2 linked regions of the Homo sapiens genome follow. The protein of the gene in region 2 purifies or fractionates together with the protein of the main gene of each other region. This does not show direct contact. Each region holds a gene or a part of one and is shown on either strand. Other genes may lie near its edges.

What was found.
Region 1: the proteins of ZNF618 (region 2) and GAPVD1 purify together in Homo sapiens (affinity purification with mass spectrometry, with the first as the bait; one large-scale study listed by BioGRID). This does not show direct contact.

Annotation. Positions count from the first base shown.
Region 1 is NC_000009.12:125,303,326-125,306,825, reverse strand, and holds part of GAPVD1 (GTPase-activating protein and VPS9 domain-containing protein 1), read right to left. Parts: intron 1,764-3,500; coding exon 1,677-1,763; intron 1-1,676. UniProt on the Homo sapiens protein: Acts both as a GTPase-activating protein (GAP) and a guanine nucleotide exchange factor (GEF), and participates in various processes such as endocytosis, insulin receptor internalization or LC2A4/GLUT4 trafficking.
Region 2 is NC_000009.12:113,882,519-113,886,541, forward strand, and holds part of ZNF618 (zinc finger protein 618), read left to right. Parts: intron 1-4,023. UniProt on the Homo sapiens protein: Regulates UHRF2 function as a specific 5-hydroxymethylcytosine (5hmC) reader by regulating its chromatin localization.

The sequences.
Region 1 (3,500 bases), about 11 Mb from region 2:
CTCTTTTTGTACTGATATAGTCTAAGATCTTGGAGCTGGGTGTGGTAGTGCATGCCTGCAATCCCAGCACTTTGGGAGGCCAAGGTGGGTGGACTGCTTGAGCTCGGAAGTTCAAAACCACTTGGGGCAACAGGGCAAAACCTTGTCTCTATGAAAAATACCAAAATTAGCCAGGTGTGGTGGCGCGCACCTGCAGTCCCAGCTACTTGGGAAGCTGAGGTGGGAGGACTGCTTGCGCCAGGGAGGTCGAGGCTGCAGTGAGCTGAGATGGCATCACTGGGTGACAAAGTGAGACCCTGTCTCAAAAAAAAAAGAAAATAACAATAAGATGTTGGAGACAAACATAACACAACACAGAACAGTATACACATTGTGCTACTATTTCTGAAAGGGAAAGGAAGGGATGGTTGGAAGTATATAGTGTACGTAGGAATTTGCCTGTAAACATATGGACCTCTAGAAGGAAAAACAACCTAATAACATCAAGAATCTTTTGGGGGCCAGGCGTGGTGGCTCACGCCTATAATCCCAGCTACTCGGAGGCTGAGGCAGGAGAATTGCTTGAACCTGGGAGGCAGAGTTAACAGTGAGCCGAGATCACGCCACTGCACTCCAGCCTGGGTGACAACAGCGAACCTCTGTGACAAGAAGGAAACTCTGTCTCAAAAAAAAAAAGAATGTTTTGTGGGGGCAGGGAATGAAGACTAGAGATGAGACGTGGAAGGGAAATTTTACTCAAATATCCTTGAATTTTCATTGGTTGAATGTACAGCTTAATCAAAGTAAGACTGATTAAAATTTTATTTAACTATATTAATTGAACAATGTCATAGATGTTAACTTATAAACTACACTTAAAATTAAACAATTATCGACCAGGCATGGTGGCTGACATCTGTAATCCTAGCACGCTGGAATGCTGAGGCAGGAGGATCACTTGAGGCCAGGAGTCAAGACCAGTCTGGGCAACATAACAAGACCTCGTCTCTATAACAATAAAAACACTTAGCCGGGCATGGTGGTGTGCCCCTATAGCCCAGGTACTTGGGAGGCTAAGGTGCAAGGACTGCATGAGCCCAGGAGTTTGAGCCATGATCACACCACTGCACTCCAGCCTGGGCAACAGAGTGAGACACTGACTCGAAAATTTAAAAGTTGGCCAGGCGCGGTGGCTCACGCCTGTAATCCTAGCACTTTGGGAGGCCGAGGCAGGTGGATCACGAGGCCATGAGTTCAAGACCAGCCTGGCCAAGAAGGTGAAACCCCGTCTCTACTAAAAATACAAAAATTAGCCGGGTGTAGTGGCAGGCACCTGTGATCCCAGTTACTGGGGAGGCTGAGGCAGAGAGTTGCTTGAACCCGGAGGCAGAGGTTGCAGTGAGCCAAGATCATGCCACTGCACTCCGCCTGGGCGACGGAGCGAGACTCCATCTCAAAAAAAAAAAAAAAAAAAACTTTTTAAAATAAAATAATCTTAACAGCTCTTTGATTCTCTTACGACGGCATCTCCTCAATACATCTGTGGGAATTAATCATCTTTAAATGCTGCTGATCCAATACTGTAGCTAATTAAAAGAACATTTAATTTAGATATCACCTAAGGACAAGATTTAATAAAGAGAACAGTTAGGCTCACTAATACTTCAGAATTTTCTATAAATCATATTTATTCTTACTTTGTCAAACTTTCCAAGGCTGCTCTTTGTTCGGGGATCTCCCTCTTCAGAGCCAGTCATTGCTAACTGCTGCAAAAGGCGGCCTACCTGCAACCCAAAGCAGTGGTAGGGAGACATAAGCTACAGACAGATACTCACAAATACGTCTCTATGAAAGCAAGCACGTCTATTCTGTTCTAAAAATCTGTTTCATAATACTATTCATATCACCTGACCAGGCATATGAAATAGTATCCCCCAAAAAATGTGTACCTTATGTCAGCTTTTACTATTTTTAGATTAAGAGTTAGAGAAAGTATAAATTTTTGCTTTAATTTCTCTTTAACACATAAGATATCAACATTAGGGAAAAAAAGCACAATACATTTGTTTCTGACATTGTACTTTTCATTTGTTTAGAGCTTTTTAAATTAATTTGTAAAAGCTGACTCATTCATTAAATTGCCTTAAGTTAATATTAAGAACATTACCTTATAGCGTTCACAAAGCAATCAAGGTATAATTTTTTCCCTAGATTTAAAAGCAAATGATTCCTAACATAAGCTGGTTTGATAAAGTAAATACTAATTCATAGAACAAGTACCTTACTGGCAAAATTTGTTACTGCACTCTTTTTAAAGGCTAATGATGAAAGTTATTACAACATCCTCTTCTTAATATCTGGGACAAGCCCCCTTTTTACTGATTCTGAAAATATGTAATTTGATCTCTACTGGAATGACAAAAAAAACAAACAAAAAAAACTACAAATACATTATCTACCATAAGAATAAATTTAAGTGTTTCATGGGCCAGGCACAGTAGCTTACGCCTATGATCCCAGCACTTTGAGAGGCCAAAATAGGAGGATTACCTGAGGCCAGGAGTTCAAGACCAGCCTGGACAACAAAGCAAGACCCTGTCTCTACAAAAACATTTTTTAAATGAGCGAGGTGTGCTGGTACACACCTGTAGTCCCAGCTACTCAGGAGGGTGAGGCAGAAGGGTCACTTGAGCTCAGGAGTTCAAAGGCTACAGAGAGCTAAGATGGCACCACTGTACTCCAGCCTGGGTGACAGAGTGAGACTATCTCAAAACAAACAGACAAACAAAAAAAAACCTACTGTTTCATGTCAAAAATTTTGTGCTCGCTTCAGAAGCACATATACTAAAATTGGAACTCTACAGAGAAGATTAGCATGGCACCTGTGCAAGGATGACACACAAATTTGTGAAGTGTTCCATATTATAATTTTTTTAAATTTATAAACATTAAAAAAAGTTAAAAATTTTATTTCAGGCATTTCTATACAGTGAATTGCTAAACATCCCAAGGTGATATAACTGATCATTAAAAACAGCTAATCATTTTTTCTGATTTTTTTTTTTTTTTTGAGACGGAGTTTCGCTCTTGTTGCCCAGGCTGGAGTGCAACGGTGCAATCTCAGCTCATCGCAACCTCTGTCTCCCGGGTTCAAGCAATTCTCCTGCCTCAGCCTCCCAAGTAACTGGGATTACAGGCATGTGACACCACACCTGGCTAATTTTGTATTTTTAGTAGAGATGGGGTTTCTCCATGTTGGTCAGGTTGGTCTCAAACTCTGGACATCAGGTGATCCGCCCGCCTCGGCCTCCCAAAGTGCTGGGATTACAGGCGTAAGCCACCGCACCCGGCCAATTTTTTTTTTTTTTAATAGATATGGGGCAGTTGGGGGTCTCACTATGTTGCTGAGGCTGGTCTCAAATTCCTGATGTCAAACGATCTACCCACCTTGGCCTCCCAAAGTGCTGGGATTACAGGTGAGAGCCACCACACCCAGCTTGAGCTAATCATTTTTTAACAAT
Region 2 (4,023 bases):
CTTGGGGTAGTCCTGGAAACCTGGTGGCTTATCGTTAGCAGGCAAAGTTAGGCGACAAGTGAGAATGTACACTCTTGGCTGTTGCTTTAAAACAGCCTGCCATCCATGAGACTTTCTTGTTAAAGCATTCTGGATGCTTTCATTCCGGGGCTGCTCTAGCTCCTTGGAATGTTTCTGGATTTGTTTCTGAGCCTGTGGCAAGGCTTTAAAAGGGATACATCTCAATCGCGGGTGGACCTGTATGTCTTTGAGCTTCTGCTCATGCTGGGGCCCTTGCCTCTGGTGCCCCTTCCCTCATTCATATCTGCTTCGTGAGAAACCAGACCCTCCTCGAGATCAGCTGCACTTCTTCTTCTGTAGAGCTCCCCCAACAAATTTCCCCAGGTAGGCTTCCTCTCCCTCTGCCCCCATGGTACCTCCCAAACAATGTGGACCCACAGGTCAGAGTTGGTTGTTTGCATTTCTGCTTCTCCAGCCAACTTGTAACATCTGTGAGGGTAGAGATCACCGGTTATTCATTTTAGGGTCTGGCGCAGAGCAGCAGCTCCATAAATATTTGATGACTTCATTTGATTTTTGGAAATAGCTCAGATCAGTGGGCTTTGGGTCTAGTGAAGAGTGGATGACCAATTTGGGCTTGGCCATTTGGTCAAAGCCAATGTTTTATTAGGGAGCCCGAGGCACATTTTCTTACAGCTGGCTCTGAAGCCATGGCTCCCCTGGAATAATAAGTCCAACAGGGATCCTTAGTTGGGGAAATGCTCCTTTACATGTCTTGGGGGATTTTTAAAATGTTCGTCTGATGACTTTCACCCCTGCCCTCCTCACTCCTTTTGTATAAAGTATTTCTTTAAAGTGGATGGGGGACCCCCAGATGCCTGATTTGCAGGTATGGTGAATGGGGCATAGCAGTGCCCTGTATTTATGCCTGGTCTTCTTAGCCAGGTGTCCTGGAACTGAACACCAGGGGCCTGTTTGCAGAATATCCAGGCACACGGGCTCCTTCAACTTGAAGCACCTAAATGTGTGATGTGACCCCATTTTTGGTTGAATTTTGGTTTGCAGATGTCAAAGATTCAAGGAAAATTTATGGGAGAAAACAGAACCTTCTGTTTCTTGGCTTAGTTTTTTTCAGCACGTTTTATAAAATGCTGTCATTTTTAACACTTTGTGGCCAATTTCAGCAAGCAAGCATAGAATCCTAAGTTAAGGTAGACATCGATCCTCAGTGTTCATATTCCCACGTTTCCATATTTCTGAAATCAGGATGCCCCTTACAGTAGATTTGTTCTTCTAGTGAACTTTTTCTCCCTCTTATTTCTTCTCCAAAAGCTGTTATAAAATCGATGGTGCATCTATCAGTTGAAAGCATCTTGGGATTGAGTGTTGTTGTCCTCCTGGTGGGGAGGACTATGACCTGTGGGGGCTCCATGCTCTGTTTACCTCACTTTTCTCTGGGCTTGGCCCCCCCCCCCCCCCCCCCCGCCCTGTACAGTGAAGGCAGGACTTCACCTTGGGAAGAAACATCTGGAACTCTGACTTAGTCCTACTTTCCTGCCATGTCTGTGTGTAGGTTTTGTAATTTTGCTGTGGCCTCTCTAAAAGGGGCAAGTAGCCCGTGGGAGGGAGGTGAAGTCCTGTAAATGGGGGAGGGGGGTCTCTTCAGTACAGCCACATGCATGAGCTGGCCCGACAACAGCGGAGCACCAGTTTGACATTTCCAAGGGTAGAATGAGCAGAGCATAGTCGGAGAGCCAAGGCACGGCTCCCCTCTCTGCTCCACCAGTTAATCATTTTGTGGTGTTTGCCAAAGTACTTCATTTCCTTGCACCGTATTTTCCTTACCTGTAAAGGTGAGATGATAATATATTGATGATGATGATTGAAGATGATGATGCATAGGGTTCTTGTGAAAGTTGTGAGAGATGTAAGAAAAAAGTTTTGTAAAGGGCAAAGTTCTTTTCACTTGCAGCATGTTATTTGTGCATCATCTAGTCCAAGGATGGTAAATAAGTAGCATACATGCTGCCATTCCCCATCCTCTAGCCTGTGGCAGACATCACTAATTGACCATGGTAGTCCTTTCCATTGAGTATGGCCAGCGGCCTCAGAGTCCTTAGTATTATATAATGCTACCCATCAGTTGGGCTTAGATGGGACATGAAGCCAGTTTGTCCTTCCTTATCGACACACACACACACGCACCCCATGGGACATGAAGCCAGTTTTTCCTTCCTTATCGAGACACAAACACACAGAGAGAGAGAGAGAGAGAGAGAGAGAGAGAGAGAGAGACAGAGAAACTGAGGCCTTGGGAAGAAGGTGGAGTGACTTACCCAAGACCTCAGTGAACAAGCGGAAGTGGGACTAAAAGCCTCAGATTTCTTCACTCCTCAACCAGTGCTTTTCCTGCCCTGTGTGTATACACTGTATCAAAAGGAATTAAAATTAATTTGGTCTTGAGAAATAGCGAGAGAATCCTGACTCCTCCCTTCCCTGTTATAATTAGATACCCTTGGGGTTGTCATCAAAGCAGGGCTGGATGACCTGCTTCTCTGCCTGATCCTGGAGTGATCAGGTTTCAAAGGGGAGACGCCTGTGGCTAGGCAGCTGGATTGGATGGTGTCTCTCAGCAGTGTAAGTGACGTGGCAGTGGGGCAAGGCAGGCCCTGGGGTTCCTGGATGATGACCTGGGTTTGGGACAGGTTTGCTGCTTACACACTTTCAAGTCCACAGACAAGTTCTTTAGTCCTTCCGTATCTTAATTTCTGCATCTGAGAAATGGGCTGGTAATGATTCTTCACAGGAATGACATAAGATAACAAGTTTGAAAATGCTTTGTAAACTCTTGACATACATGTTACTTTTTAAATACACGTTACTTTTTATAACTAGTACGAATTATTAGTGCTATGCTGGGTAAGTTGTGTAAACTGAGTCACAGACTAAGGGCCACAAGATGAGTGGGTCCCTTCTCTTGTATGTTATTTTATCTTTTTGCCAGCCCAGGGTTCAGAAAGTTTGGAGTTTGTGAGTCTTTCACAGATTCTTTCCTGTTTGCATCTGTCCCCAGCCTCATCCTGTTTCAATCATGTATGTGGCCTGCCTAGCCCTGGAAGGCCTTGGGGTCTGGGACCCCGACACAGCCTCTACTTGTTCATCTGTTTAGTGGGAGGACAGGCCATCCTTAAACCCTTCCAGGCTTTTTGAAAGCATCGTATGAGTTAATGGACTAGAAAGTGCTTCATGAACAGCAAAGAACTGGAGAAACATGTTGGCGACAACTCCTTTCTTAAAAAGGAAAGGAGGAAGGCTGAGGTGAGGATGGTATTGAGTCGACAAAAAAGTGATATAAATATTTTGGCTGACAAAGCAGAATGAGGCTTTCTATATAAGCTAAAGCGAATAAATGGAGTCAGGTGATGCTTGGCCCCCCAGTCTGCTATAGAAAACACAGGGAAAAACATTGCTTTCTAGTGAAGTGAGCCCTTTGTCAGGGGTGAATCTTTGATTACCAGGGGTCAGCCCTGTTCCTGGGTGAGGACCCAGGGAGGAATGAAACCTGGTGTCTCCCCCAGGGGTGGAAATGGCTCCTGCAAAGTGGAGGAGGCCTGAGTATCTCTTGGCAAGTCCCTGGCTCGCAGTTTGCTGGTAGCACTCAAAGTCAAAAGTGCTTTTGGCTTGCTTACTGGATGTGTTACTGTCCAAGACAGCATATCTGAGGAGCTAGCCATTCTTACCTCTCAGCTTTGAGCCTGTGCCATACAAATTCCTGCCTGTCCCAACATTTTTGTGGAAAATTGGGGGACTAAGGGTGGGAATTTTTGTCAGGTGAAAGTTTGCAGAGAATTTGTGTTTTGTTTTATTTTGGACTCAGAGTTTTTGCAAGCGAAGAAGATGTAGTCGGGGAACTTAGAATACTCAAAAAGAATAAAAGAATAGACGAAGACATTTTTGGATGTTGGGGAATTTTTTTTTTCCTTAATTTCATCAACTGGGAAAAATAACTATAAACATTTAATT